Homo sapiens: one gene and its partners. The protein of the gene in region 2 purifies or fractionates together with the protein of the main gene of each other region. This does not show direct contact. Each region holds a gene or a part of one and is shown on either strand. Other genes may lie near its edges. The genes, in order: MAB21L1, FAM222A, PBX3 and MEIS1.

The links.
Region 1: the proteins of FAM222A (region 2) and MAB21L1 purify together in Homo sapiens (affinity purification with mass spectrometry; 2 studies listed by BioGRID and IntAct, with this or other methods). This does not show direct contact.
Region 3: the proteins of FAM222A (region 2) and PBX3 purify together in Homo sapiens (affinity purification with mass spectrometry; 2 studies listed by BioGRID and IntAct, with this or other methods). This does not show direct contact.
Region 4: the proteins of FAM222A (region 2) and MEIS1 purify together in Homo sapiens (affinity purification with mass spectrometry; 2 studies listed by BioGRID and IntAct, with this or other methods). This does not show direct contact.

What each region holds. Positions count from the first base shown.
Region 1 is NC_000013.11:35,473,677-35,480,696, forward strand, and holds MAB21L1 (putative nucleotidyltransferase MAB21L1), read right to left. Parts: upstream 3,014-7,020; 5' UTR 2,463-3,013; coding exon 1,383-2,462; 3' UTR 113-1,382; downstream 1-112. UniProt on the Homo sapiens protein: Putative nucleotidyltransferase required for several aspects of embryonic development including normal development of the eye. It is unclear whether it displays nucleotidyltransferase activity in vivo. Binds single-stranded RNA (ssRNA).
Region 2 is NC_000012.12:109,708,934-109,716,824, reverse strand, and holds the start of FAM222A (protein FAM222A), read right to left. Parts: upstream 3,001-7,891; 5' UTR 1,928-3,000; intron 1-1,927.
Region 3 is NC_000009.12:125,960,365-125,967,385, reverse strand, and holds the end of PBX3 (pre-B-cell leukemia transcription factor 3), read right to left. Parts: intron 6,703-7,021; coding exon 6,537-6,702; intron 5,285-6,536; coding exon 5,172-5,284; intron 4,375-5,171; coding exon 4,285-4,374; exon of another isoform or gene 4,211-4,284; intron 1,556-4,210; coding exon 1,463-1,555; 3' UTR 9-1,462; downstream 1-8. UniProt on the Homo sapiens protein: Transcriptional activator that binds the sequence 5'-ATCAATCAA-3'.
Region 4 is NC_000002.12:66,430,491-66,438,134, reverse strand, and holds the start of MEIS1 (homeobox protein Meis1), read right to left. Parts: upstream 3,011-7,644; 5' UTR 2,279-3,010; coding exon 2,267-2,278; intron 399-2,266; coding exon 172-398; intron 1-171. UniProt on the Homo sapiens protein: Acts as a transcriptional regulator of PAX6. Acts as a transcriptional activator of PF4 in complex with PBX1 or PBX2. Required for hematopoiesis, megakaryocyte lineage development and vascular patterning.

The DNA of each region.
Region 1 (7,020 bases), on a different chromosome or scaffold from region 2:
TTCATCCTTTTATTAGCTTGCCCTATGAAGTCAAAAAGAAATGTTGAATTTCTAATGAATTTATTCTGCTAATGGAACCCTTATTACATAAAATAAGGTTTGACATAAAATATATTGGTCAGAAAGGATCGTTTTATTAGTTTTCATACATAATTTTCGAAGTTTCATTATGACTTTGTTAAGTTCATTTCCTCTGAATTAGTCAGATTTTTAACTCAGTCATCTCTACTGTCATGATAGACTTTTTTTCTTATATTATCAAAAATGCTACAAGAAGAGCAAGCTTTCAAAGGTAGATTTAAATTGTTTCTGTTGTAGAAAGGAATTGTCTTACAAGTAAGTTAGAGACTGAGAGTAGATTGTTATCTTATGGACCTATACAGAAAGAGCTTTTCTCCAATGTTTTATTTTTAAGGATTTCATTAGCATATTTCTCAAAATATTTAAGATATTCAAGTGGGTTTGATTTTCAAAATGCATCATTACATCTTGTGATAGGAAACAATTTAAAGTGAGACACAACAACTTTTATTTTACTTCATTTATTACCATCTAATTAAATAAAAACCAGCAACAAATTAAAATCTAAATCACAAAAGTAATTATCCAGTGTATTTCAAGTGCATTTTTCAAATATATAATTCAGATATTCAAGCGTTATTATATAAGCTGAATTCAAATTTCTTTGAATATATTTAAATAACATTTCAAGTATATTTATGGAATGTTAGAAATAGAACAAGCAATATTTGAAACAAAATGTAAACTTTTTAAAGTTCAGACACTTTCAAAGACAGATAAAAGTACCAGGAAGAAATCTACCTTTAAATGATATCTTTGTTAGTGGAAAATGTCTGGAAGTATCCAGAATGGCAATTTAAGTTCTGTTCACCAAATCACAAAACACCAACATCCACACTTTCAAAGACAATGTGAGATCACAATATTTGTTACAAATCAAAATATACATTACAGTTTCTTTCAGATGGCATATCCAAATCGTGTTTACTCACAGACAGATGCACCTAAATCACCAGGATTGCTATAATCCTTTGATAGTTAGGCAGAGTGTTCGTCTCGGTCTGGCGTTACAGCTGGGCTGTTTACGGAGTGTTACGGTGTACTTTTCAAGGGAGATAGGAAATCGTGTGGAAAGAAGTCTTCTAATACTAGTGGCTTTGGGTTTTTCTCCATCCGCTTCCCCTACTTTTTCTCCCCTTGTGGGGGTGGGTGAGATGATGTTTAAATATTGTATTATTATTCCTTTTTAAAGGAAGAGATTGTTTGCACTGCGGAGTGGAATATTAGGAATTGAACAGAAGTTTACACTTAATAAGGACTTTGAGAAGGGTAATAATTTCGGCTCTTGATTAAATCATCCTCTAAAGTTTTTCCAAACTTTTCGGGTTGGTCAGGATCTCTCTTGCCAGTCGCCACGTTTGTTTGGCAGCGTTTTCCAGAGCTGAGTGAGGTTTGCCTTGAAACAGATCTAAGTTCGGTAGAAAGTAGTGGGGACACCGCCGGCACTGCAGGCAGGAGATAAGTTGCAGCAAAATCCCGTTCAGCCGATCACCCAGGCAAGACTCGTCCCAGTCCGACTCTCGGGGATGCTTTTCACACTCGTAGGAAACCAGAGTCTTCATATGGTAATTGTTCAAGGGCTGGCCCGGCAGTTCAAGGTGACGATCCCTTAAGGTTTTGAGGATGGAGAGGCACTTCTTTCTGCAGCCCCCCATCTGCAGTCTGTTCTCTGCCTCCGCGAACTGCAGCACCCAGGCGTCGCTCTCCGCCGAGCTCTGCTTGCCGGCCAAGGAGTGGCACTCCTTGGACAAGAGATTGAAACCTTCCGCCTTGACCTCCGCCACCCGGTTGGGTCCCGGCCAGGGGATGTGGGGAAGTGGCCAGTGGGCAGCACTCCTCGGCCAGATCCCGGTGCATTTAAAGGCCGGCGTGATCTGCACCACGTACCTATCTCGGATTCTCAGTTTCACTTCGCTGGTGTCTGCCACCATCTTTACCACATCCCGGTAGCTACATTTGTCTACCGCTTGAGCCACCAGCGTCTGAAACCTGGACCGGATTTTGCGCGCCGAGAGGTAGCCGGAGGCGGTAATGAATTCCACCCAGAGGGACATGCTCCTCTTGCGCCCGTCGCTCAACTTCAGCACCGCGCAGCCGGGCAGTGAGCCATCGTCCACGAAGTTGAACACCCCCATTTGGTTGAGATAAAGCACCACTTCAAATTCGGTGGGGGAGATGACCTCGAGGCCCTCGTAGCGATTGTCCATCTCGTTGAGAGAGCTGATGAACCGCGGCTCCTGCACTTCCACTTCCTTCAGTACGTCGGAAACTACTTTGCAGACTTCCCGGATAGTTTTGGCAATGGCAGCTTTCCTGGCTTGGCATTTTTCGTTGTAGTATTTATTCAGATGGTAGACCAGCTTGGCCTGGGCCGCAATCATGTTGGGGCAGAGATCCGGATTGTACACCGGAGTCTCGCAGTAAGCTGTGGGATCCAATGCGGCTGCTAGAGCTGGAGCCAACTTCGGTGGAGAAACGGGCCGCAACACTCAGAAATGGATCAAAAATGCCTTTCGGAAGTGCTGCAGCGTTGGTTTCCCTGCTGCTGCTGCTGCTGCTGCTGCTGCTGCTGCTGCTGCTGCTGCTGCTGCTGCTGCTTTTCCCTTCCTTTTATCTTTGAGCCCAGCCGTTCTTAAAGTGAAAGACTGTCCTCCCCCCTCTGCTTGTCTCTCTTCCTCTTTTAAAGAATCCTTGTGTGAGAGAACCGCATGGAGAGATCACCTTCTCAGGAATAAAAAACAAAAGTTGCGCTGAGACCCAGCAAAGCTCTTCCAGTAGTCAAAATAAGCACCCCTTTCCGTATTTATTTGCGCTTTCCCGTAATCATTGTGTGTGCAGCACTGTTAATCAAATGGAGGAAAAGTGTGCTGAGTGTGTGTCCGGGGTGAGTGTGCGTGTGTATATGTCAGAAGAAGCTGCTGTTGGTTTGTCTAAGAGCCCAGATGCACTCGTGTGGAAATTATAAAGGCAGGGCCAGGCAGGCGGGCGGCCAATCGCCACTGGGCTCGTCACGACAGCCTCCTTCAGCTCCAACCCGGCTAATTAATCCCCACTCATGGATATAGGCACACAAACTAAAGGTAGGAGGCTGCTGCCGGCGGAAAACCACTCAGGCCACCTAGACAGTTTGGAAATCAAGAGGAATCTCTCAGCTTTGGTATTACTTGAAGCATATTGACGTTTTGAAAAGACTTGGCAAAGCGGCTCTCTTCTGTGCCGAAAACCTGCTTGTCTTTTACCGCTGAAATGCAAATACAGGTGTATTAATGGGCATCCATCAATTAGTGATCTTGACGGGGTTTTCTAAAACAAAATCACTAACTTGCATTTAGAGTAAGATAATTAACGTCTGTTAATCCTTGGGGTCTTCTTAAATGCAGGTTGAAAGTTTGTTCTTTCATGCAGACTACTGGCATATGGAAGTTGGCTTTAGATGGAGGAGTACCTGTGTAATTTTCTCATTCTGGATGTTCCTATATGTTAAAATGATTTTTTGAAACGTTATGGAGGTAGTATGCTCTTTTTTTACTTATGTTTTTTTCTTTTCTCCATTTGTTGAATCTGAAAATTATTGCTGAGTGTGTGAGATGTTCTACCCCTGTTTAAGTTAGGATATTTAAAAAATATTTCGTACATCCCTCTGCCCCAGCAGATGCAGTCTTTGCACTTTGGTGGACTTGCCCAGCATTACAAGCAGGACACAACGCTATATATGCACTTATAGAAACATTTGAAAAATAAATTGTCTGTGGGATGGACAGAGTACTTTAGCGTTATTTCATAGTGACCTGTATTTTAGTACATAAAATTCAGGTGAGATCATAGAGATCAAGCTTCCTCACAGATAACTATCCCGAAAAATTGAAGGTTTGGGGTATCTGGCTTGTTTACAGATGTATAATTAAGGATATATCTCCTGTCTTAAGTGTCCTTAAGTGGTGACCTGGCAGTAGACTTCTAATTTTATACTATTTCGTGTGATTTAATTAAGGGAAAATGGTTAACATTTGCAAAGAAAATTAACTTGCAGTTATCTGGGGGGTTTTTTGGATTTAAACATCATTTTGAAAACAAAAATGAAATAAATCATTTCATTTCTGAATTTTGGAACCTGGAAACAGGAGGAGGAATTTTTTTTTCTAGTTGGTGGTCCAGTTGTGTCCTCAAAGTACAGGAAACTAAAGAAATACTACTTAGTGGTTACGTTGTGGTTTTTAAAACTAGGTGGATTTTTTTAATTGTCTACCTTTAATTTAGATGCCACGTCTTTCCAATTAAGAATATTTCCCGTCAAATCCTATAACTCCCGGTAACATGTTTGTAGACACTTTCAGAGTCACTTTTAACAAGATATTCTTCAGGGCTCCCACTTGCTACTTAAGCTTTTGATTTTTGTTTGTGTGTTTTGTTTTGCACAGGCACAGCATCACAAAACCACCTATTATTTAATTTCTCCTTATCCAACAGTGATAGATTCCAATTTAGCTGAAAATAGTATACATTGGGGTGCGTGGCACCCAGCTACTCTATTTCCCAAGAACCTTCCATCCCCTTAAGAGCAGGGTCTGGGAACACCCAAAAAACCCCTCCCCACTTTGCCGTCATCGCGGGTGAATGCACCACTACCTTTTGGCAGTTGGAGGGGAGACCCATCAGAGCCGGAGAACCTGCAGCCACGACGGCGAGGATGTGCAGTGGTCTCTGGGGAAACGCCGCCTTCTGCCCTCACCCGGCGCGTGTGGCCCTGTGCCGTCCGCTCGCCGCCTCTCTCTCGCTGCTCCGCATTCCCGTGCCCTCTTACTTTCCTCTCTGGGCTCAAGATCGCTACGCTTTATTTCTGCGTGAGCTTATTTGAAAACCTTACTTGGTGTCCCGGCTTACTCTCCACGTCTGCTCCAGACCACGGTCTGCCCACGCACCCCTCAGCCTGCACCGCCCACGTCCGGCCCAGGTGTGGTCGCAGCCAAGCCCCAGCCGCGGGCCCCTGCGCCCTGCGCTCTCTCCCTTGGGTTCAGGCCAGAGATGCTTGCCCCAAGACCTCGCCCCTTGCCTTCTTGGGCCACCTGCAGAACACCCTTGGTTGTCAAGGACGTGAGACAGCCGAGGACGGGGAGGCCCCAGGGCTGTTCGGGGGACCTTAAGTGGGTCCAACGGGAAGGACGCGGGCCTGCGAGGGATGCCGGTCGGGCCTGGCTGGAGCCAGGCGCGCAGGTGGCGCATCTTCGGGGCTCACTGTGCAGCTTAATTGGGTTAAAGCGAAGCTAAACACCGAAGCACTTTGTGCAAACTAATTGGTGCAACCAGCGCCTTTTCACTAACGATTTGCACTTTGAGAAAGAAAAATGGATGGTGAGAAAAGGTATACTAGGAAACTCATTAGATCTAGAGTGTTCAGGAAAGTGAAGTCATTTAGTTTAAAGGACGCCAGGACTGTGTTTTCTAAGCTGCTTCCTTAAGCACCCCTCACACAAGGAGCTGAAGGTGATTTACATAACATAGGATTCACCGGTCCGCGATTATCACTGTGGGTGAACTGGGCGCCCTGGAATGAATAATACTCTAGTGCAAGTACTGCTTGTTGCTGCAACACAGTGATTTTCTATTACACTGAACACGTGAAATGAATTGCCTTCTGTAGCTGAATCCTTTCAGTGATCGTAGACGCCCCTCATTGTTGAAGCGAGAATTAAGCTATTCGGAGAAGCGTGTTTTCCATCCCCGAAATTTTTTTATGGAAATGACCTATAGAGAGGGATTGCAAATAACAGTACATTTTTGTGCAGTTCAGCCGATTTTAATCTAGGCTTGGGGGATATATTTATTTTATGGGAGTAATATATTTAACTATTTTTCAGTGAATTTTAAAAAAATATCATTTGACCTATTAAACTAGTTATGTCAAATGATTATGTAGTACATAGAGATGGCTTAATATACATTTATGTATTAATGTGAAAAGTTTTTTTAAAAAACTCCAGTTATACCAGTCTTGCAATATTTTTTGTTGTAAATATACTCAGTGCTACTAGAATAAAATTGTGTGTGTGTCATGCTTTAGGATGTAAATACTTAATTGTTTTCAGTGGTAGGCATGCAGACATCTTTGACATGAGCTAATAATAGAATGATAATTGAGGAAAACTGGCCTAATTGAAGGAAAAAAATCTCAAGAATCTCATGATTTAATGATAGTTTGAAATGCTTATATTGAATGGTATTTAGAATTTTAATGCCTAACTGACTTTTACATTGCATTTACTTAGTTTATGAGGCAGGCTCGATTTAAAATGTACCAGTTAGGAAAAAAAAAAAAAAAAGCAATAAGGACATAGCACACCATTATCATAAATGTTAGTAGTATTAGTGAATATAAAATAATTAAATATTGTGATCCTTAACACTTCGAAGCGTTCGAAATAACAGTGGCAAAACAACTTTGCCTCAAGTAGTATTTCCTAAATAACTTGTCTCCACTTCTGCAGACCTGCTTACTTATATGGGATATACAAAGTAATTCATAAATAGTGTCATTATTAAGCTTAAAGAAAAACCCTGTTATGTTGAGAAATACAAGAATGCAATATTTCTTTGTTTTCGAAAAAAACCTGATTTAAATTTGAATTGCATGTTCACAAATCTCAGTAATTGTAACCTTTCATCTGGAAAAAAGGTATCTGTTAAAGGATATGCACATACATGTTAAGTGCTTATATAGATATTGTTTGGTGTTTTTTCATTATCTGCTAGCTGCTAGTCTATTCACAAGTATTAATGAATTTAAAGTTTTATTTTTTTAATATGTGCTTATTACGCTGGGGAGATAAAAAGAATATGAAGTTGAGTTTATTACATTATTTATCCCTACTGCTGGAGTGGCTTTGAAGGCTCATTGTAGCCATCTGATTTCTTTCCCCCTTCTTTTTTTTTAAATGCACCCAG
Region 2 (7,891 bases):
ATCGTCTGGCACGCTGAGTGCCAAGCCCAGGGAGATGAGGGAAGGGAACAGAAGGAATTGCCCAATTCTGACAGCCTTTCCCTCTGCCTTGGCTGTGGAAGTGTAAATACTCGGCAGAGGGCCTCCAACTGCCTGTGTTTGTGAATCTCTGGCGCGCACTCCGAGTTTGTTTCTAAACTGGGAAGCTTCGAGAGGCAGCGCAAACAGCCCTTCTGCCCACCTCTCCCGGCTCTCCCCCAATCTGCTGTTGCTCCTCTGTCCTTGGAAGCTTGTGTGTTTAACGACACCATTTCAGCTGGAAATACCATCTCCCTGCCAAGCCCCCAAAAGCAGCTCCACCGATATTTATTGACCTGTTAATCTAGCTAGAGAGCTTGGTAGAAGAGCAGGGAAAATGCTCGCTGCATAGACTGGGGCCTGGCTTCTCCTAATGACCCGAACACACACTTTCTCTGCTCTTACCCCGCCCCACGCTGCTGAGGCAATGACAGTTTTCGAACCTTTTCCTAGAAATGTGATCACAGCAGTTTCACCAGCACCCGACACTGGCAATAATTGCTGGAAGGGACCTAGACGAATCCCAGAGCCAGCAGCAGGATGCTTGCTGGGGGTTCTCTGGGCCTTTGCAGGGAAGCGTGCCAGTACTGGGGTGTGTGTTGGTTGGGGGTGCCCTGACAGAGACACAGTTTATTCAGACCTTGGCACTGATGGGCCTCACTTGCCCGCCATTCACTTAAGCAGCCTCACAATATGCTCGTTGAAATCCTCTTAAACACCAGAAGGAGCAGGGGGCAATCAGGAGTTCCAGGTTGGCCAAGGCCCCTGACCTTGGGGTAGAACAGCATGGGGAGCCCCTGGACTAGGGGTGCAGCAGGCAGCAGCTCCTCTGCACCTTCCTTGGCTGGGGGAGGGGCACCCACATTTTCCCCAGCAGAAGTAGCCTATTGGAGGGCCGGAGGCCCACATCTCTCTGGGGACCCTGGGAACTTCAGCCTGCCAGCTGGGTACATGGTGGGGTTCAGGGAGGTCTCTTCTATAGCATCTCTTTTCAAAACAGAAAGTTGCTCTGTCTGGGAGGCCTGAGCCCCGAGGCACAGGCCAGGCTACATGGGCAAAGCTCTGAACACCTGTCCTTGCGGGGAGGAGCATCAACAGGGACAGCTGGCACTGCCTCCCTCCCCCACCTTATGGGGCGCTAAGGATTTAGGTCAGAGGACTGCAATGGTAGGGGTGGGGGGAGTCCGCCTTCACCCCTCCACTACCCAAAGGCATCCAGCCCCGCCCCTTGTTACCACGACCCCGCCCCCTCCGGCCTTGGGTCAAGGCAAGTGGTGTTGCCACGGCAACCCCAGTGACATCAGAGGCTAAGGTTTGACGTCATGTCGTGCCCCCACTGGGGAACCTACCGTCCCTGCGAGTTATTTGTGGGAACGTGGTTTGAACGAGGGCTCTAAGGTCTAGCCCCATGGGGCACAATTCTCAAACGTGGCCACCTGCGTTTCTGGAACCCCAAATCCCCCTCTGAGGTGATTTCCCTTGAAGATCTCAGAGGCTGCTCGGGAGACCCTCAACGTTTTCCCATCCTGGGTGCCCCCCACCCCCCAGCCCTTCCAAGACACTGGAGTTCCCGGGGAATTTTCGGATGACACAGCCAATACCTTTGTTAGCTTTACGGGTGGGGTGACCTTTCCTCTCTGGCAACCAACCCGCCCAGGGTCCCGCGGAATCCGAATGGGCCCCCCAACCTCCACTCCCATCGGCTGGCCCATCTGAACAAGTTGTGTTTGGAGGGAGGAAAGGGGCGGACAAGGGTTATCTCTGCTTCAGGACCCCCAACAGCCTAGGACCCCTTCTGTCCAATCCTGGCTGCCCGGACGCCAGGGGGTGCCCCCAGCTCCAGCGCAGAACCCCGCCCCGCACAACTCACCGGATCAGCCAGGCCGTCGAAGGGCACCAGGTCTCAGCTACCACGACGCTCCGCTCGACGGGTCGCAGCCATGCAGGAGTGGCAGAGGCTGCCTGACGAAGCCCTCCTTGGGGGTCGATGCCTCTCTCCGGGTGGGAAGGGGCGCTGTCGGTGAGGGCTATCCTGGCGCCGGCCTGCGCCGTCCGAAGTCGGGGGGGAGGGGAGGTCTCCGTTCAGCAGGGGTCACGCCCGCCCCGGACGGGGGCCGCGCGGGCGCTCAGGCGACGCATCTTCGCCGGGGCCCGTGATCGCCACGTCCGGCGGGCGGCGCTGCGCCTCCCCTCGGGGCCCCGCTCAAGGCTGCAGCTCGGCCCGCGCCGCTCCCAGGGCGCCCTCTCCGCCCGCGCTGGGAGCCCGGCGGCCGCGGCCCCTTTCGCCAGCCCCAGCTGCAGCCTGTCTTTGTTGCTTCCTCTCGCTCGCCCGCCCGCCCGCGGCTTGCAGCCCCCGGGTTCGCCCCGAGGTGGAGGGATTGTCTCCTTCGGGGGTTGCACGCACCCGCAGCGGCCCCGGCTCCTCGCCGGACATACACCGGCCCCTGCAGGTTGCAAAGAACAGCGGCGAGAATGCACCGGCCCCTCCTCCTCCTGCTCTGAGCCCCGGGTGTGGGGGGAGGGGAAGCCGGCGAACAGCGGCGGCGGCAGCGGCGGCGGCGGCGGCAGCGGGCGACGCAAGCTCGGATGCAGCCTCGGGGGCCTCGGCGCTGAGAAACAGCCGATCCCAGTGGCGCAGGACGGACACGAGGACGGCCCGGGGGACTGTGCACCGGGTGTGCGAGCTCGCAAGCCGCAGCAGGGGCCGCGCGCGCTGGGCTCTCACGCGCCCATGGCCCCGGGCGGCGCGCGGGGGCTCCCGGGGCCGCAGCCTCGCGCCGTCTGGCGCGCGCCGGCGCCTCGCCTGGTCTCAGGCCCGGGTGCCGCGCGCCGCGCCCCACAGGCGCCGGGCCCGGCTGTCCGCCTCCCCCGGCCGGCGCGCGCAGCCTCTCCGCGGAGCAGCCGGCCAGGCAGTCCTGCCCGCTGCTCCGCTCTGGCCCGACTGACAGGCGCGAGCGCCGGCAGCAGCCCCCGCGTCTCGTCCCCCGCCCGCCCCCCGCGGCCCAGCCCAATCAGCGGCGGCTGAGAGGCGGTTACCAGGGTGACGCGGCACCGCGTCCTGCGAGGGGCGGAGCCGGGGGCCGCCACGCGCGCTTTTCGCGGCAAAATTCAAAGGCCGGCAGGGCGGCTCTCCAACCTCCTCCCCCAAGCAGGGACGAGGCGGAACTTGCCTCGCGAGGACTGCAACTCCCGGCATGCTGCGCGCCGGCGCCGGGTGGAGGGGCCCCGACTGGGGGCGCAGGGCGTGCTGGTTTTTGTAGTCCCACTAGGGGTGGCAAAACCAGTGTCATTTACTGATCACATATTTGGGACAAGGCACTGTATAAGTGCATTATCGGCATTATTTCATTTAATCTTGGCAAAAACCAACCTCATGAGGAATTTGTTAAAAATAACAACTATAGCTAACACTTATGTAGCAAAGTATTTTATCTAATCCTCACAACACCGTGTGAGTGGGTATTACTATCACCCCCATTTTACAGATGAGAAAACTGATACGGTAGGTACTATTATTATACTTCCAACTTACAGAGGAAACTGAGGTAAGGAGATGTGAAGTGACATGGTCCTGGATGTTTTTGTCCTAAGGCTTATTTTTGGCAGCGATGTGTTTTTGGCATCACAGTTGTGATCTGTGGAGCGCTAACTATATAACCCAGCACAGCGCTGAGCAATTTGCAAGCTACACCTTCTAGACGTACCCCACGCCCACAGGAGACAGGCACTAGCCTACTCCCCCACTTAATAGATAGGGAAACTGAGGCATAGTTTCACATCAACCTGGGGTTCAAATATGAATCTATCAAACTATACTGTGCTTTCCCTTTTACTTTTAAAGAAGCTTCCTGGGTTCTCACAGCCCATGGGCGGCCCGTCTAGCAGTCTCATTTACAGATGGGGAAATTGAGTCCTGGGTGGGGCAGTTCCCTCAGTTGCTGTGTGTCCATCACACAGCACTGTAGGAAGCCAGCTTTCCGGGATAATAACAAAGATCCCCACAGAAATGCAGAGCAGCAGTCAGACCCCCCACCCCTCAGGCTATGCCCGTGTGATACCTGGAGTCCCACCGAAACTGGGTGGGATTGCAGCCCTGCCCTTGCTGGTTGTTGGTCTTGGCCATTTACCTTCACGGGTCTGCGCCTCAGTTTCTTGTCTGTGAAATGGGGGGCATCATAATTCCTACCTTACAGCGTAGATTTGAGGGCAAAATGAATTCTTGCATGTAAAGGACTCAAAACACACATTAAGTGCTCAATAAATGCCCTCTGTACTCACCCGGGCTGGAGGGCTTTGGAGACCCTGGGGAGCGTATCCAGCGGACGGGCTGATTATAGACGGGCCCTAGCCTACTTCCAGGAGCCAACCCACCCCGCCGGGAGAGGCGCCCGCGGCGGACCTCCAGGGCCGGCCCAAGTGGGTCACCCGCCGCCTTATCTAGGACAGGAGCTGGCCCTGTTTCAGGCCTCTAAGCGGCTGCTCGGCGCGCTGTTCCCAGCAGCTCCGCTCTATTTCTCCGCGGCCGCCCCCATCTCCTCCCCTTCCCTCCCCAGGCTGAAGGTGGGGGTGGGGATTTACCTGGAAATGTGTTATGCCTCCAGCTGCTTCCCGCTCGGGCCAGCAGCCAGGGCTGCGGGGACGTCAGGGAGGGCGGCCGGGGCGACTGGATGGGTGGACCCAGCGTGTGGACAGGTGGGGAGACCAGACTTCAGCTGAGGACAGGGCGAGGGACAGTAACAAGCAAACCCTGGGAAATGAGAGAGATCGCGAAGAGGAGAAGAAGGCAGCAGTTCGCACCACAGCCTGTCAAAAGTTTGGGATTTTTTTCATTGTAGGTCACCATGACTTCACACCTACTGTGTGTCAGGCATGGGCTCACTGCTATTTATCTCACATAACTCCTTTTACCCTCGCAGAAACCCTATAAGGTATATACGATCACTATGCACATCCTACAGCAGAGGAAGGCCACATGACTTACCCAAGGTCACACAAATGACAGAACCAAAGTCCAGAGCCCTGACGTTGATTTATTGCACCTTGTGGCAGCCACTGTCTGACCGTGTGCAACCTTGAGGGGAGTTTCTTCTCTTCTCTGGACCTCAGTTTCCCCTGCCATGAAATGGAGGGTAGGACCCAAACCCCAGCCCTACCAATCAGACTCTCCTTGGTGGGACAGCAGTTTCCAAAGCTCCTATGTGGTTCCTGATACAGCCAGGGCTGACAACCCCAGGTCGAGAAGATCTCAAAAGACCCCTCCATCTCTGAAGTTCTATGAGTCCACGATGTGCTCATGGTGGAATTTCCGACAGCAGCAGGCTCCAAGGCAGCTGTCCAGCAGGAGAGGTCAGAGCCTTCCAGATGCCTGTCGCTCCCCTCCAGGCAGGTGAATGCCCCGTAAGATGCTCTGCCCCACTCCCCACACTCCCAGTGCCCCCCTACCCCATATGCCCATCTCCCTGAGATCAGACCCTCGTGCCTTTGCTCTTGGTCGACTCCAATAACTGCATTATGTGATTGGAGACAGTGTCAAGATGGATTTGCCACGGTCCATAAAACCACCAGGCAGGCCAGCCCCGGAACACTGGCTCTGGCCAGGGGTCCGACAGGCCCTGAGGGGGCAGGGGGCAGAGGGCATCTCATCTCTCACTGTTCTTGTTTGCCTCCCACACACCAACCTTGCTGAAATACCTACAAATCCTTGCACGTGCCTCTCTCACCTCCAGGTCATTGCTTATGCTGTTCCTTCTACCTAGAATGCCCTCCCTCCAGGTAGCTAACTCTTGCTCCTCCTTCAGAGTTCAGCCAAAGTGCTGCCTCCTCCAGGAAGCCTTCCCTGACTACCCTGCTCCAGGCTGGAGCACTTCCCCCTTCACAGATGTGTCCAGTGTGTGTTATAATGGCCCACTTCTTTGTCAGGCTTCCCACTGGCCTGAGGGCTTTTCCAGGGCAAAGGCTGCATTCAGTTCATTTTATTCCCTAGCACAGGCCTGACATAGAGTCAGCACTCAATGAAGGTCTGTTGACTTAATCTCTGAATCACTGAATGAATGTGGCCCAAGTTTTTGTTTTGTTTTGTTTTCACGTAGAGGAGGAGAATTAAGAGAAGGGAGTAGAGTCAGGCTGACTGGGCTACTAGCCATATGACTCAGCCGCTCTGTGCCTCAGTTTCCCCCATCTTTGAAATGGGATTAATTGCCATTTCAATTAATCAAGGCATCACTCAAGGGGCCTGGAGGCTGGAACTTTTGTTCCCACCCTCCCACGTATGTAAGGCTAGTCTTGCTCTTCTCTGTTTTTTTGTTTTTTTGTTTTTTAGAGACAAAGTCTCACTCTGTCACCAGGCTGGAGTGCAGTGGCACCATCATAGTTCACTGCAACCTTGAACTCCTGGGCTCAAGTGATCCTCCCACTTTAGCTTCCTGAGTAGCTAGGACTACAAGGTGCATGCCCCCATGCCCAACTAATTTTTAAATTTGTTGAAGAGACGGGCTTTTGCTATTTTGCCCAGGATGGTCTCAAACTCCTGGGCTCAAGTGATCCTCCCACCTCGGCCTCCAAAAGTACTCGGATTACAGACGTGAGCCACCTGGTCCATCTTTGCCTTGCCCTTCTCTGGTCTCACGCACTGAAGCCTGAGCATTCCCCCTTTAAGTCTGCTAATTCCCTCATTCATTCAACATTTTCTAAGTACCTGCCCTGTGCTTGACACTGGGAATTCAGCAGTGACTCAGACCAAGACATAGGCCTCTTGGAACTCAGGTTTCATGGGGCACAGAGAAGGCAACTAACAGGTGTCATCCAGGGTACCAGTAGAGGGGACAGTCCGAAGCAGGCACCTGACTCAGCGGAGGGCCAGTGATGGTAAAAAGGCAAGTCAGCTACCCTGGGAAAAATGGGTAGGAGGTAGCCAAGGGCAGAGGTGAGGGAAGAGCGCCCCCGGAAGAGGGAACAACCAATGCAAAGGCCTAGTGTTCCAAGTGAGGGAGATGTGAACGCCCCAAAAGCAGAGGTGGGTGAGAGGCTGAGCTGGGGCTGGGGAGAGGGGAGCAGGCAGAGACGGGGCATTTATGCAGGCAGAGGGGGCAGGCCTGCTCCAGCCTCCCACCCCACCCCCAGTTGCCTCACCTGCCCTCATTGCTGTGATCTAGGCCAGAGCCCGGAGGGAGCCCAGCCCCCATTGGTGCACGCCACGTAGGTTTTTCAGAGATAATTTAATCAGAGCTATTAATAAGCAGAAAAGAAAGAGCTCTTTATGCTCCTCCTGGAGAAACGGGGAAAGAAGAAACACATGTAACCTTGTTATTCACCCAGCCCCGCCCCCCAGTACCTGAGTCTCTCTCTGGGGCAGGCCTAGTGGGGCAAGGAGGAGGGGGTGAGCTATGTGTAGGGCTGAAGAAGTCCAAGTGGCCTCAGGAACCGAACCCTGCCCATCTCCCTGACTATATCCCACCCTCACTCCCTTCTGGCCACTTTAGTCTCCTCTTGGTTACTTGAAGGTGCCAAACTATTTCCCACCTCAAGGCCTTGACCCAAGCCGTTCCTTCTGCCTGGAACATTCTTCCTTTTGCTCTCTGGTTTGTTCTCATACTTCCAGTCTCAGCTTAAATGTCACCTCCTCGGGGAAGCCCTCCCTGACTACCCGATCTGAAGTTATTTTCCCCAGAACACCTCCCTTTTGTTTTGCTTTCCCTCTCGTCAGTGCTTACTGCTGTTGGCAGCTTTCTGAGCACTTGCAGGATGACATTTATTTTCTTCTTATTTTTTTTTTTTTTTTTTGAGACAGACTCGTTGCACAGGCTGGAGTGCAGTGGTGTGATCTTGGCTCACTGCA
Region 3 (7,021 bases), on a different chromosome or scaffold from region 2:
CATCAAAATTTAATCATGAAAGCAAAAAGTTTATTCATGTTTGAAACTACATATAACTACCACGAGGAAGACTTTTTCAATCCAGGGTGTAATCCAGTTAGAAAGGAACACGAAACGTTTTTAATACATTAGAATCACCGCCACAAATTATTTTCATGACTCAATCAGTTTCAGAATCGCATACAATACAAAAAGAGAGAAAGGAGAGGGGGCCCCATTACACAGGGTGAAATATACAGTACTGAATACTGAAATCTGAATGCATCACAATTAGTCGCTGCTTTTTTTTTTTTTTTTGCATGGATTAGTAATAAGATGAAGAACATTCAAAATGTTTCTCAGTATTTACAACAGTTTTACCGATCCTGTGTTGAATTAAGACCCAATGTTTCCACACTCGGTTTTTTAAAAGTTGCAAGTGCAACCCTGATTTTTCTTTTAAAAGATTACAATGTACATTACATTTTATGAAGGGAAACAAAGAGTTAATTACAAGATGCAAAAAGATAAGAAAGAGACAAACTACAGCGTGAGTATTGTTCAGAGGTAGTAAGTGAGCACTCTAAGCTACAGAACATGTTGAAATTCTATTGGTTTGTATGAGTTCGCATGAGGTAATAAAGCTGTGTTTTGATTGGTGGGATGTATAAATACTCTTTTGCTACACTATATACAACACTCCAGAGAGCAGGGCCTTTTGCAGATGCCCAGAGGACGTAGCAAACCTTGACAAGTCTGTGCAGCACCCAGTGCACACCGTAAAACCCCAGACGGATCAATCTCGTTTTCACCTCTATCAGCAGCAAGTATCTTCGTCTCTCAGAACAATCTGGATCCATAATTTTATTACCGAGCAGACTCTGGGCACTGGTGCTTTCAGAGAGAGAAACGATGCTACCAGTCTCTGATCTAATTATAACATAAGAGATCTGAACACAAACGTGACGAGGAAGATTCTTAAACACAACCATCATTAACAGGGATAGGCAAACAGCTCTTTATTCCAACTCCATTAGTGATATGAAAGAAAGACAATCCAAGTCAGTAATGGAAATATGCAAGAAGTTCAATTTAGGTGAGGTGAATTTTTGCATCTGCTTTAACGGTTGAGGTTTAGTGTATATTGTACTTTTTACCCTTAAGGCCAAGTAATTGGCAACTGTGAAACCATTAATGTAAAATATTGATAATAAATTATGATAAAATAGCTACAGGACTGTCAACAATGTTAAATCTTGGCCTAATTGGATAAAGTGCTTTATTTTTTTTAACATTGTGTGTTTTTAAGTATAAATACAAATGATTATGATTCCTTAAAAAACAGATTTACCAAGTTCTCGAATAAGACAAGGTTTTACAGTAAAGCTGTAGATGGTGGGCTACAAAAACGCTTTCCTTTTCCTCCTATTGCTCTGAATGCACTTATCAAGGCATGTAGCTCAGGGAAAAGTGTGGCCAGAGATTAGTTAGAGGTATCCGAGTGCACACTTCCTGGGCCTTCTGTAGGAGAAGTCACAGAAGATGGAGTTGTTGCGTCCTGCCAGCCTCCATTAGCCTGAAAGGAGAAACACAGTTCAACGGGTGCACGTCTACATATTAATTCTACTCCCCAATTTAAAACACCCGGATGACAACATGAGAGCAGAGATGCATTAGCAAAATGTATTTTCTAAACCCACTGTGGCAGGAGTTGGCAGCATGTGTTAAAGTGGGATTAAATGCATGTAAAACAAATCCATCCCATCAAGTAAAGTCTTGGCAATAAATCAACACGCCGAAGAAGGGCTTCAGCGAGGCCCATGCTGGCATCGAGCTCGGCCTTTGATCTGCTGGTAAAACTAAAGTGACTCAAAAAGAAATCTCTTCAGAAGGGAGCAGTGGAGAAGCTCAATGCAATGCCTCAGCGAAACCCAGGGCTCCATGAAGTCTAAACTTCACCCCGGCTTAATCATCATTTCCATAGAGAAGCAGTTGCCCACCCTTTTTCCATACACGCCTGACAGCCAGCTACTGTAACCCTTGGAAAGTGAAGGCCAGAATTTCCCTCCAAATAGGATCTTCCAGAATGAAAATGCATGAGCCGCAGAGCAGCACACACTGTTAAAATCTGTATTCCAATTATCTGTGGCTGAGGCTCCTATTTGGGATGTTGCTCCCACCTTCCACATGCTGCTGGCCCTTCCTGCCTCAGACCTGCAGCAGCAATAACCGTACTCAGAAACAAATTTGCCTTATGTCTTGGCCTATAGTGGCAATTGCTGAAATCAATGTCTGATCAGATTTCTGCTGTGGCAGACAGCTTGTCGCTACATATTTTTATGTCAGTCAGGAAGAGGGAGGTGCCAGCCTCGTGAGTTGGGGAACACTGAGTGGAAGTGATGGGGCAGGCCTTTCTGGAGAGGAGGTGAGGGTGAGCAGGCTCCCCGTGCCTGCAGCACCAACCACCCTCTGCCGCCATGCTGCCCCCAGACCCGGACCTCCTACACCAATGTCAGGGTGGGTCATAAGGTGCCTCCTGCCTCCCTCACATCTATTTGCAACTTCCTCTGCAAGTCCATCCAAAATGCCCTCTTTCAGGCCTGGGCTGCCAGGCTGCTGAGAACTCTTGTCTAGATTCCCTGCCCAGCCTAGATACAGCTCCTAGATGAGCATGTGGCAGCCATTGTTTCTTCTTCTGTGATCACAGTTCCTGGAGAACTCCCTGTCTTCTAATTCACTGCAGAGTTGGCATGCAAAGCACCTTTTCTACCTCTATGACCTAAGAACCCCACAGAGATGACCAGACCCTAAGGGAAGAGGATTTTCCAGGCTTGAGGCATATCAAATTCAGGTTAGGAAAAACAAAAGGAAACAGTATTTAAAAAAAAAAAAAAGCTATGGTGGTATTGTTTTAAAGCCTCTGTTTTGCCAGGTTGGCTAATGACATGCCCATGTGTGTTCGGTGGACTCTCAGAAATCCTCTTCTCTAAAAGGTAAGCTGTTTCCCCCCTCAGGTATGAAAATCTACTTAGGAAAAGAAAAACTCTCACACAGATACAAGTCTAAAGATATTCCATCTGAAGTAAACATCATTCCTCTTTTATCCAAATTTATAAACAACAAATGTACAATATTTTTACCCAGCATGGCAGCTGGAGGAGAGGTTGTCAGCAAGCATTCTTTTTTTTCAAAATAAATTAATCCTTACTCTGGTGGTTTGAGATTATGCACTGTATTATACAACAGCGCCTTATCAAGCCTCATCAGTGAAGATGGAATTCATGTCTGTAAAATGCTGCAGGCAATCACAGTTTCATATTTTATCATGTTGATAAGGATATCGCACATTCTCTGAAGCATTTCAAAACACTTAAATGAAAAAGGAGAAATGCAACTAAAAGGCTTTTTATATGGTTTGTTGTGGGTTATTATGAGTTATTTATAAGCCCAAAAAGAAAGATTTGACATTTCAAATGTAAAAGATTTGAGTATTTAATGGTCCTTTTTTCCCTTTACAATTGAACATCCTCAATCACTTTTTAAATCATTAATATTTACTCTCGTAGCAAGCCAAGGCCCTAAAAAGGAAGAATTTTGCCCATTTTCTTCCTGAGTCTACTACCGTGAGCTGGGCAGTTAATTTCCTTCCTAAGTCTAGAACCCCAGACTCCATCCACCACACCCCGCAGCACCACCACGATGACCTGCTCCCCTGCCCCCTTCCCCCTTTTCCAGAGCTGTGTGTTTTGCCATTTTCCATCCATGTCAGTGGAGGGAAAGGTAAAGTTGTAGTGAAGTAGTTACAAAAGTTAAAATTATTTCCTCCATAATTAAAATTGTCAAATATGTTGTGCATCCCACATTGACAATACAGCAAGATGCTTTTAATAACACAATTATTTGTTTAGCTTGGTTTGCTGGTCTGCCTGGGATTCTCCAAACTTACCACCTTCACCTGAGTTCTGTTTGGGAATTTTTCCCGCTGCCTGGTTCTAAGATAAATGACCTGTTTTCTACCGTCTCCCTGGAGCACAGCACTGATGGTAGGAAATGGCGTCTTAATGGGCTGATGCTTAAGTCCCTGCTGATGACAGGACACCAGCCATTTCTGGGCATCTATGAGGACTTCTAAGGGTATCTAGACGGCATCAAGCATTTAGGTTCTTAAAATAAAAGTGCAGCAAAGACGCTGCCTTCCCTACCTGCCAAGAAGATGAGAAGCCAGGTCAAATGGCTATTAATTTCTTTATTAGTCACTGTTTACCTGACACTGTTCTCCTACAGCTGACTCCCCAGAGTACTCACATTTAAATTATGTGGACTGTACAGTGAATTTCCTCCAAGGCCATCACTGTAGCCTCCCGTCTGATTGATAACATGACGGAGGGTATCCACCTAGAAGTGAGACAAAACAAAATTCATCATCCCAAATCTATTAAAACGTCATCACTTACAAAAGGAAATAATTTGAATTATGTGTGCCACAAGGGTTTAACATCTTCAATGAAAGACAAATTTATCAATCAAATGTGACTGGCAGAATTTCAACCATTCTTTGCATATTTAAACTCACAAATCTTTGTTTTTCATGCCAGCCAAACAATAACATCTTCATGGCAATGCAACTTTCCATCTACAGCAACCAAATGGATGTGGCTGTGGGTGAAAGCCTACTTAGAATTGTGTATATGGAATTATCTCAACTCTCTTTCTCTCACTTTCTCTATGTCTCATACACATACATCTAGATGTATAAAAACTATATGAATAGTTCTGTTCTCAAATAAGAGGACAAGAAAAGAGTAGAAATTATAGAGTTATAATTTAAGAACTCAGGTTTTTGTACTCTGACTTGAGAAATGAAACAGCAACATGTTCTTAAACCATATACACACTGGCACACTCAATTTTTCTGTTCTATTTTGTGACAAAAGTAAGATGCACCCAACCCCTCTCCATGAGCTCAAGCCAGAGCCGAATGCATTCACAAAGTTTATCAGGTTTGAATCATCACAAGTCACTGTTCACTTGACTTCTCATTAAATTAAATGGTGGGGCAGATGGGTCCTGGTTGGAAGCACCCAGCACAGGTTCTGCATGGATGTGTAGACCACTTCCATGGGGTCAGAGGAAGGAGTTTTGAGCCCAAACCCTACCCTGCTAGAAAGGCCCCACTGGGGCATTTCTCCTACCTGTGATTGCACATTGGCTCCGACTTGGGACCCTTGGTAAGAATCCCCATTCAGACTCTGCATGTTCATGAACATGTCCCCAGAATTTGGGAGGTTAAAAGAACCAGAAGAACCTGGAAAGGAAAGAGTTAAGTAGCTGAATAACAGAGAGCTACACACATAATCCTCAAAGACCTAGAGGCAGGGAGATGAGAAAAAGTACAGAAGGGAAAGGCTGTGCACAACATAAAGCATTTCCAGATCTAAGAGGATGGAGAGTAACTCCAGAGAGTTGGGTCCTGTGAGTCACTCCACATCTAGGAGAAGTCCCATCAGTGGGGAAGCCCAAACTTAAAAAACAAAAGCAAAAACAAAGAGACAAATCAAAATAAATTAAAAAGAAAAAATAAACCAAAACACCCAGCAGCTGGCCTGGACCCTTCCCCTTGTTTCCACTCATCTCCAGGATTTAGTCATTACACGAGCTTGTCAACATGGCTGTCACAGTGGACAGCCACCCAGAGAAGAGACTTTTCCAGGAGCTCTTTCTTCGCTATGCATATACCTCCCTCTCCTTTCATCTGTTTTTATGTGCCATTAAAAAGAACTGGGGGGTGAGGAGACAAGACAAAACAAACAAAAACCCCCCTACTTTCTGAACTTCTAAAGATATAGCTAAGAGACCTTCTCAGAAACGCCCCTGGAATTGCTACTGAAGTCCATCTGTTTGGACTAGCTGCACATCTTTCATTGTTATTCAAGTTCCCTGAAATTTTAAAGTATTTCTAACCCCCTCACAAACGTCACATAAAATGCAGCCAAAATGTACCGGACGAGGATCCAAGAATCTTGCATGCATGTATTAAGCACCATAACCCTCACAGCTAGCCACCTGCTGAGCATGCCGTCAGCCCCGCTCAGACAGTGCTGCTGAAAGGCAGAGAAAGGACAGCGGTGCTGGGCAGAAAGCACTGCTGCACTTCCCTCCAGCATTCCAGCTTCCTCACACACAGCAACTGCTGCATTTCCCACTTCTGCTATTTCACTCTCCACAGACCACTACTGACCCTAAAGTGGTATCTGGAAAGAAATAGCTAAAATAGTCATGAGCGATAGCACTCTGCCTAATTACTGAACTGAAAGCCACTACTAATTGTAAAACTTCCATAATCTACTAGTGAGTGGCATTCACTGTGAAGAGTGGGTTTACAGGCTCTGACCTTCCACTCATTCACCCATCTCAAGAACAAGCCTGCATTTGAACATAAATCTTCCTTTTTAAGTCCACTCTGTCCTCAGTATGGCTCTTGTTTCCTGGCCTGTGGGACAGGGCATTGTGGCATAAGGCTGCCTGGGCCAGTTGGGGAGCGAGCCCCCAGTACGCACCGGAATTTGGTGTGGTGGGCGAATTGGTCTGGTTGTTCTGCACAGCTGCTGCTACTGCGTGTGCAGCTGTCACGGCCGTCTTTGCAGCATAGAGGTTGGCTTCTTCCTGAAACTTGCCAATGTTCTTCTTGTACCTGATTCGTTTGTTGCCAAACCAATTGGATACCTACAAATTGCAGGGACATGGAGGTGAAGGGGAAGAGAGGAAGAAGTAATCAAATTCCAATAATACCTGCTGGACACCAAGGCAATACCTTGGGAGACACACAATTCCTAGCCTGCAACCTCACATCCTATGGATCATGCATAATGGTTTTGGGGGTTATTTTCTCTTTTGGCAAAACTCTCACATTCTTTTGGAATAACGCTGCTTTCTTAGAGTTGGCCACAGTAATACCAAAACGGCAGGGAGCGCTGCTCATAAAAGATATCCAACTGCTATATACCGATTAGTATATAAATAGTCAGGCCCCCAAAATCAGGCT
Region 4 (7,644 bases), on a different chromosome or scaffold from region 2:
GGGCTTCAGGGATGGCAGGCCACCTCCCCAAATTATCCATGAAATGTGAATGAAAAGTCACCAAAGATGTACCTCCAATCCAGAGAACTCTGACTTTCCTCTTACCAAGGGCACAGAGAAAGAGGGAAGCGTTGAGTCTCAACTACTTAACCTGCTGCCCATTGTACCTACCCATAAATGGCATCTTTATCTCTCTTTAAAGCGTCATTGACAGAGGAGCCCATGCTGGGGGCCATGGCGTTGGTATGAGCTGTGTGCGGGTACTGATGCGAGTGCAGAGGAGGCCCGTGGTTCAGGTGGTGGACCGGCTGCATGGACCTGGCTGCATGCGGGTCCCCATACATCGTGGAGGGGATGCCTACTCCATCCATGCCCCCGTAATGGGGTAGATCGTCGTACTGCATGACAAACAGGAGAGAAAGAAGGTTCAGGAGGCCAGGCGGGCAAATGGGAGAACGGCAAGGCACCGAGCTTATATAAGGTCAATACAGCTGGGTCCTTCCACCCGGAATTCGGTGGCCTTGCATCTATAAAGCTGAGTTTTTCTTATTTTAAAATTAAAGCTTTAAGTAAAAAATACAGAATTCTCAGCGAGACTCGTCTGGGATGAATGATCTTGCCCTAACTTGTGTCCCTATCAACTAGTTTAGAAATTCAGGCTCCTTTGGCAAGAAGGAAAGAAGAAAGAAAGAGAGAAAGAGAAGCATTCTCCCGAGGGTAGAAGGTGAAACGGGCATGTCTCTGGAGGAAGAAATTCAAAATCACAATAATAAAACGTGCCAGGACACTGCAGCAAACCCGCCTAGTTTCACAGCCCCTTCACATCAGGGGGAATTAAAAAAAAAAAAAAAAGTTACGATGGGAACAGCTACGCAAAGCACGTGAATTTAGACAGGCTTCTCATTTTATTTCCCTGCCAGCGTGAGGTTAGGCAGTCCTACAAGACACTGCATTTCTTTTGCTTTCCAAGACAAACTCTGCTAAATTATACAAAACTAACTGACCCCTTATAAGTGAAACTCAAAGGAGGGTAGCTTTTCCTGAACATCAGAGCTGAATTTAGAATTGGGCAATTCCCCACCCCCAAAGTTAAAGAAAATCTATAGTTGAAGCAGCTAATATTCTATTTTCTTATTTACTCTTATGAACTTTGTTTCCAGACTAGAAGTCAAGGAGGCAAATGTTACTCACCAGGTTTAAAGCAAATTCAAAAGCAAATGCACAACTTTCCATCTTCCTCTTCCAGAAAAAAAAAAAAAAAACTACTTTCATATTGATTGTCATTATTTTGTGTGTGTGAAATTTAGCTATTTAGGTTTTTCTAATTGGTTCATTCCAGGCAGTTATTTTCCCAAGATTTGGAGGCGCTGAGAGTGAAATGATTTTCAAAGAAAGGAGGAATTGCCACTTTCATCTCCTTAAAGCCAGAGGTGTGAAAAGAGTTTGGAAGAACGCTGACATTTGCCTGAACCAAAGGAGTAAAGAAAACTGTGTCAGCCTAGTAACTTTCTTTTGCAAACAGGGCTTTGAGGGCCAGGACACAAATTATGCAAGGAAGGCTTTTTGTAGACCCCCTTTCTTTTAAGAAACTACCTCAGTTGGGTTGTCATTGTCTCACTTTACTCTCACTGCATTTCCATTGAAAAAGGAATATGGGGAAATTAGTATTGCATTTTTAAAGTGAGTAACTGTGTGCTTAGTATTCAATTAGTAGAGGGCTTATCTAAGAGAAACTTGCAAAATATTGCCTTGTATACAAGTCTATACAAATTGAAATTACTATAAAAAGATGAATGTTTTCTGACCAAAAAATTGGCTATACTATGACAAAGTTATTTCCTTTAAAAAGCTGAATACTTCTAGTGATATTAAAGATGAGCATAATCAATAACATATCAGAAGTTTCCAGCTGCATATTTTAGTTTAAACATAACTTTAAACTTCTGATCTCTGAATGTTCAAATTACAGCTTTAGGTATCTAGCTTTTTTAAAAAAAAACCCAGATGATTGTTTGAGCTTGCATTTTTATTTATATAGCTGCTGGTTAGGAATCTATAGATAAATAGATTCCTTTAATTAACAACTCCAAGTAACATACATAAGTCTACAAATGCATTGAATAAATCCTCTCGCTTAGGCCACGGCTTTAGGAGCCTCATTTTTTAAAAGAGAGAGAGAAAAAAAGGAAACTTTTTAGCAGTGTCTTTCGGCCACGTTTCAATTTAATCTCACATTTGAGTTCCACAATTGTTTTTTAATACGTACCCTTTGCGCCATCGGCCTCTCTGGCTCCCTTCCTACTTCAACTTCTAATATATCCTCTTTAAGGCCAGTGTGAAAAGAAACAAATATTCAAACTCCCCCGGAAAAAAAAAAAAAAAAAAAAAAAAGCACGACGAAAAATCCCTTAACGTCTCCAGCAACGTGAGCTACTGGTCCCAGATCTTCGGTCTACGGGACCTGAAGCAAAGCGCCCGAGTCACTGAGCATAAAAGCGCTCCGTTTCCAAGACAGCAGCGGGGGCAAAAAAAAGCAGATCTTCTCTCCCCCAAAAATCAGTTTAAAAAAAAAAAAAGAAAGAAAGAAAGAAAAGGAAAAAAAAGAGCGCCCCTCAGACCCAACTACCAAATCTCATGGCTTTCTGCCACTCCAGCTGTCAATCACAGGCGAGGTTGTCAACGTGGTGAATGAATGATCATCCGCTCTGTCTTCTTCTGGTCAGAACACCTCAAATGTTAATATTCAAATGCACAAAGCCCTAGCGCTCGCTTCCCTTGAATCAGTCCTAATTCCTAATCAGTTTCTCTCTTCTCTCTCTCTCTTTCTTTCTCTCCCTCTCTCTCCCTCTTTGCAAGTGCTGCACTGGAAGGAGATTAGAGAAGGAGGGTTAAAAAAAATGTCTGTCTGAGTTTGTCTTAAAGGAGCCACGATCGATGCTGCCCGCTTGCAGTCCCCGTGCGTGTGTAAAGTGTGTGTTGCACAGGCGGAGAGGTGGATTCCGACCAGAATGCTAGAACCCGGAAGTAGTGGTGGCCATAACAGGTCGCGTCTTACACAATGCATTGGGCTGCAGCAAGTAGGCTCCTCGGCAGGGGTGGGTGCGCGAAGCGAGCTCTGGCCGCACTGGAGAGGCAGAGAGGCGCTCCATTAAATCGCACGCCCAGGCACAAACACCACACACCCAGGGCACACGCACACAAACGCAGGCAGTAGCCCGCGGCCGCCAGCTTTATTTTCAGTATTCTTTTCTCTCCCTCCCCCTGCAGACTCTCTCCCCAAAGCCGACTCTCTTGAAATAAATTGGGAATCAACGCCGGGCAGGCAGCAGCGGGAGTTATTTTGCACAGGGCTCCGCGCATAGACTTCATGACTTTCCTCGAAATTATTGGGGTCTGCCAGTGTTTTTCGGGGCAGGGGGTGATGCGCAAAGTACTGAATTCTCAGAACTAAACACTGCAAGGAGAAAAGTCAAAGCGGGATCGTGGAGGAAAAGGAGGGAGAAGCCAGGTTGGGAAAGCCTCTGCTAAGGAGTCCTGAGAACATGGGGTTGAGGTGGCTCGGGCTTTCTGCAGACCCAGCTTAGAGGTTTCTTTGCTGTTAGAGGTGGACGCCCGGCCGGGGGAAAGAAAATGCTAGCATTTTGTCACTTCGGGTCTGGACTCCCCCACCTCCTAGCCCCGGCGGCTCCCAGCCCCAGCCCAGGCGTCCTGCGCGAAGTAGAGAGGAAGGGAGGGAACAATGAGCTGAGCGCGGGGAATGTGCCCCCAGCGCCTGTTTACAAACACCAAGCTATTTATGATCGTCGGAAAGCGAAACCCGGCGCGGGCTCGCAGCAGCCCAGACCTCGCGGGCGGAGCCGGGGCCGGGGAGCCGCTGGGAGGGAGGCTCTTTCTCCGACCCGCTCGGGGTGAGGCGGCCGTGCGCCCAGGGCGCGGCGCGGCGCGGCGCGACGCTGCCGGAGTGCTAGGCTCCGGCTGCAGCCACCGCTGCCTTTGTCTTAGAGGCGCCGAGGGGCTCCAGCCTCGACCTCTCCCGGGCCTGTAAGAACCTCGCGCCCCACTAGCTCTTTCTCCAGCGAAGCCCTGCCCTCACCACCCCAGACATCCTTCCCCGCGCTCCTCTTTCCCGTCCCCAACCCGGCTCGGCGAAACCTCCCAGTGCCAGAGAAAAAGAAATCCGCTTCGGAAGCTGAGATTTCAGACAAAAGCTGCCTGTACCTACAACTCGGAGGCTCCAACCAACCACTGTTTTTTGTTTTGTTTTGTTTTTAACTTTAACACCTATTGCCTGGGCTTTAATTCCCCCTCACCCCTTCTCTTTATTCTCCCGCTCTAAGCTTCTCCCTTGTGATTATATTTAGTGGCGTTATTTTCGTATTTATATTTCTGTCCGCTGGGCTCTGATCTGCCGAGATGGCTCAGCCGCAGCAGCTCTACCAGTGGCTGGAAACCTCACATCCACAAGCAGGGCTCGCAGCTCGCTCGGCTCCGAGAGGATTTTTCCCCCTCCCTCCAGCTGAAACCTCGCAGAAAACTCCCCCTGCGGTCGACTGGAAAATGAGCTCACCCAAATCTCGGTAGGCAGCCGTGGAGGAGTGCTCGGCCAATCAGGAGGCGCCCCCGCCCAGGCCGCCGCGCATTGGCTGCGGGGAAAATCAATTATCAAATAATCGATCAGCAGGGAGCTTCGATCTGCGGGGAATGCGAACTGCCAGTCCCTATTCCCGCCCTGAAGGTGGCCAAAAGGCTGACTCCCTCCAAGCAGCCCGCCCGCGCCTCCATCGCCCCCACCCACGTCCCACTCGCCAGCTGCGGACTGAACCCTCACCCTCAAGGGGGTGTAGGTAGGGAAAGAGTTTTGAGCAAGATTGGGGGTATCCCTTCATCCGAAGATTGTTTGGGAAAGGTTAGGAGCTCTAAAATGTATTGAAGCCAACTCTTAAGCGCAAAGTAAAAGATAATTTGCGTCCGTCTGCGAGGTAGGACTGAAGATTCTATAGAGTGGGCTTCCGAGGAGCAGGAGACACAGGGCGAGCATGAGAACATAGGTCTGGAATGAGGTTCCACCGAGCGTCCGTAGTCTCCTTAGGCGACATCTATCGCTTCCTTTAGCACTTCGCAGGAGTCAACGCGGGGTTGGTTGCCCCCAACAGTGGAGCGTTTCCATAAAGCCGAGCAGATGAGCCTTCCCAGCCGCCTGCACTGCACCCTTCCCCGCCCCCAACTCCGTACTGGCACCCTGTGTGCCTGAAGGGCTGACACACGTTCTCCCAAAACCTTCAGAAGCGCTTTGCCTTGAAAGAGCTCTCCCTCGTGTGTGTGTGTGTGTGTGTGTGTGTGTGTGTGTGTGTGTGTGTGTGTGTGTGTTTAAACCATCTCCAGGATCCCTTATCATTTGCTTCCTCTCTCCTTTTTCTCTCTGTTTCTCCCTGTCTTTTTTCTGACGCTTAAGTTTCAGGATCTTTTAGTTTTTTTCCATCACATACATGTGTAGGTTTTCTGGTACAAACGCCCTGAAACATCACTTGGGAGGTTAAGACAGGCCCGCGAGTAAAAGCTGGGGACGGAGTGGGTGGGCAGCCAGGTGCATTACCAGCGCCTTTATGCCTCTGCCTACACTTCCCGGCCTCCCCCCATCCCCCCACCCCCCCACCCCACGCCTCACCGTCGCTCCCCGGCCCCACAACATGAACTTGGAAGCAGAATTTCAGGCCAAGATGGAACCTCCCCGTCTCAGGAAGGCGATTTCTGTTTAATCCTTGGGAGGCTGCGCTGGCTGGGCCAGGCAGCACGCTCCTTTTCCGATTAGGGAAAGGACTAAGCTGGGCCGGCAGTCTGCGACCCCTTCCCGGAACCCCAGCCGACTTCGGGGTATACCTGAGCGCCTTCCGATGGCTGCTCGCGGGGGTGTGATCATCGTCCCCGCATCAGGCCCGCCAGGCATCTGCGCGACTCGGGGGTAGGAGGGAGATGCGTGGGTGGGAGGTGGGGGTCAAACCAAACACCGACAGGGCACACCTACGTTTATGATCCTTAAATGAACTGCGAGGGAAATTGTGTAAGTATAATTTAACTGAGAGAAATTTATTGCGAAATACGCTTAGAGGACTGTGGTCTTTAACAGCCTCAGGGGTTCTTCGGCAAAGAGGTAACGGGGCTTGGATTTACCACAACTCTGCGGCCACGTTTTCAAATTTGGAAAAGGTCAGTATATATATATATATATATATTTGACAACAGGATTTATTTTGTATTGTTGCTTTCCGGTAATCTTTTTCTTTTGTTTTCTAGCACAGATGAGAAAAGAAGGTTCAGGTAAGTCACCCTTTGCAAACATAACCAAAATCTTCAAAGCAGGAGGAAGACTAGACGACTGCATGCTTTAACCATGATGTGCCAGATTACCTTAAAAATGTACTTTAAATTACCTACACACAAATTTTCCTTAAAGAATGAGATAGTTTGAGTTTGCGGACTTAAAATCAACTCAGTAGTTTTGAAAAGTGCCCCTCCCCCCCCCCACAGTCTTTCCATTTTAAACTGTGAACCTAATATAACTTCTAGGCCTTTATACAATTAATTCTGAACAATCAAGGGACTAAACACTTTTACAATGTAATTACAGTAGTACAAATTGTTTGCCCAAACCTCATTCTGGATAAGGATTTTACAATTAGCAAACAGTTATTACAGTTGGGGCTTGCTGAGAGAAATTGCACAGAGGATGTCTAGAGTTGCAATATAGTAGCCATAAAAAAAAAAAAAACTCCTTTAGCAGGGCAGCAATTAATCATCTATTAAAAGGAAACAAATGAAGGGACAGGTCTAGGTATCTTAGTAAACTACTGTCAATATTTATGCCCATTTTTTGACAGCCCCTATTCCTAACTTATTTCAGATACTTGCTTTTTTAAGGCAATAGCACTTTTATTTTGCAAAAACTTGGCCTGGTGAAAACTTCTGGCACTTGGCCCTAGCTCTTGCGATTCAGGCCTTCCGTTCTCTTCTCATCCTTCTTATCTCAGAGCATCTTTCCAGAGATAGAGAACGGTGACAAAAGGAGGCAGACTGGGCCCTTGGTCTCTATTGTTTACACCCTCCTGTATGGAGGCATTTCAAGCCCTCAGTGCTCCTCTGAGCTGCTGGTAAAGTCGTCTCGGAGAACTCCCCTGACTTTATGTTCTATAAGGAATTGTGCTTCTGGAAAGATCTATATCCTAAATTAGGCTTTTGTCCCAAAAGGTCACACTGATGAGTCAGCTCCAAAACCCTTAGAAACTAAAGAGGCACCTCTTAAGGTAAAACGTGTGTGTATTTGCCAGCCCAGAATAAACAAAAGCCTGTTAATCAATCGAGTTTGGCAGCTGTGTTCACAAAATGATAAGGGTTTATCATTTGCCACCAAACTTTAAGATGTCCCTTAAAATGCTGTGATTGGTTTTTAGGTTGTCCTGTGGTGTGGAGGCTTGGCGTTTGTATTTCAAAAACATTCATCCTCTGCATCTCTCCCCCTCACTAGCATTGACATTTCAAAAAAACAGAAATAAGAGGAGGGAGGGAAAGATAGTTTAAAGAAAATAGATTCGAAATCTAGTACAGATAATAGAGGAATGCTGGAGATAAGAGCCTGGAGGTGATATGAGA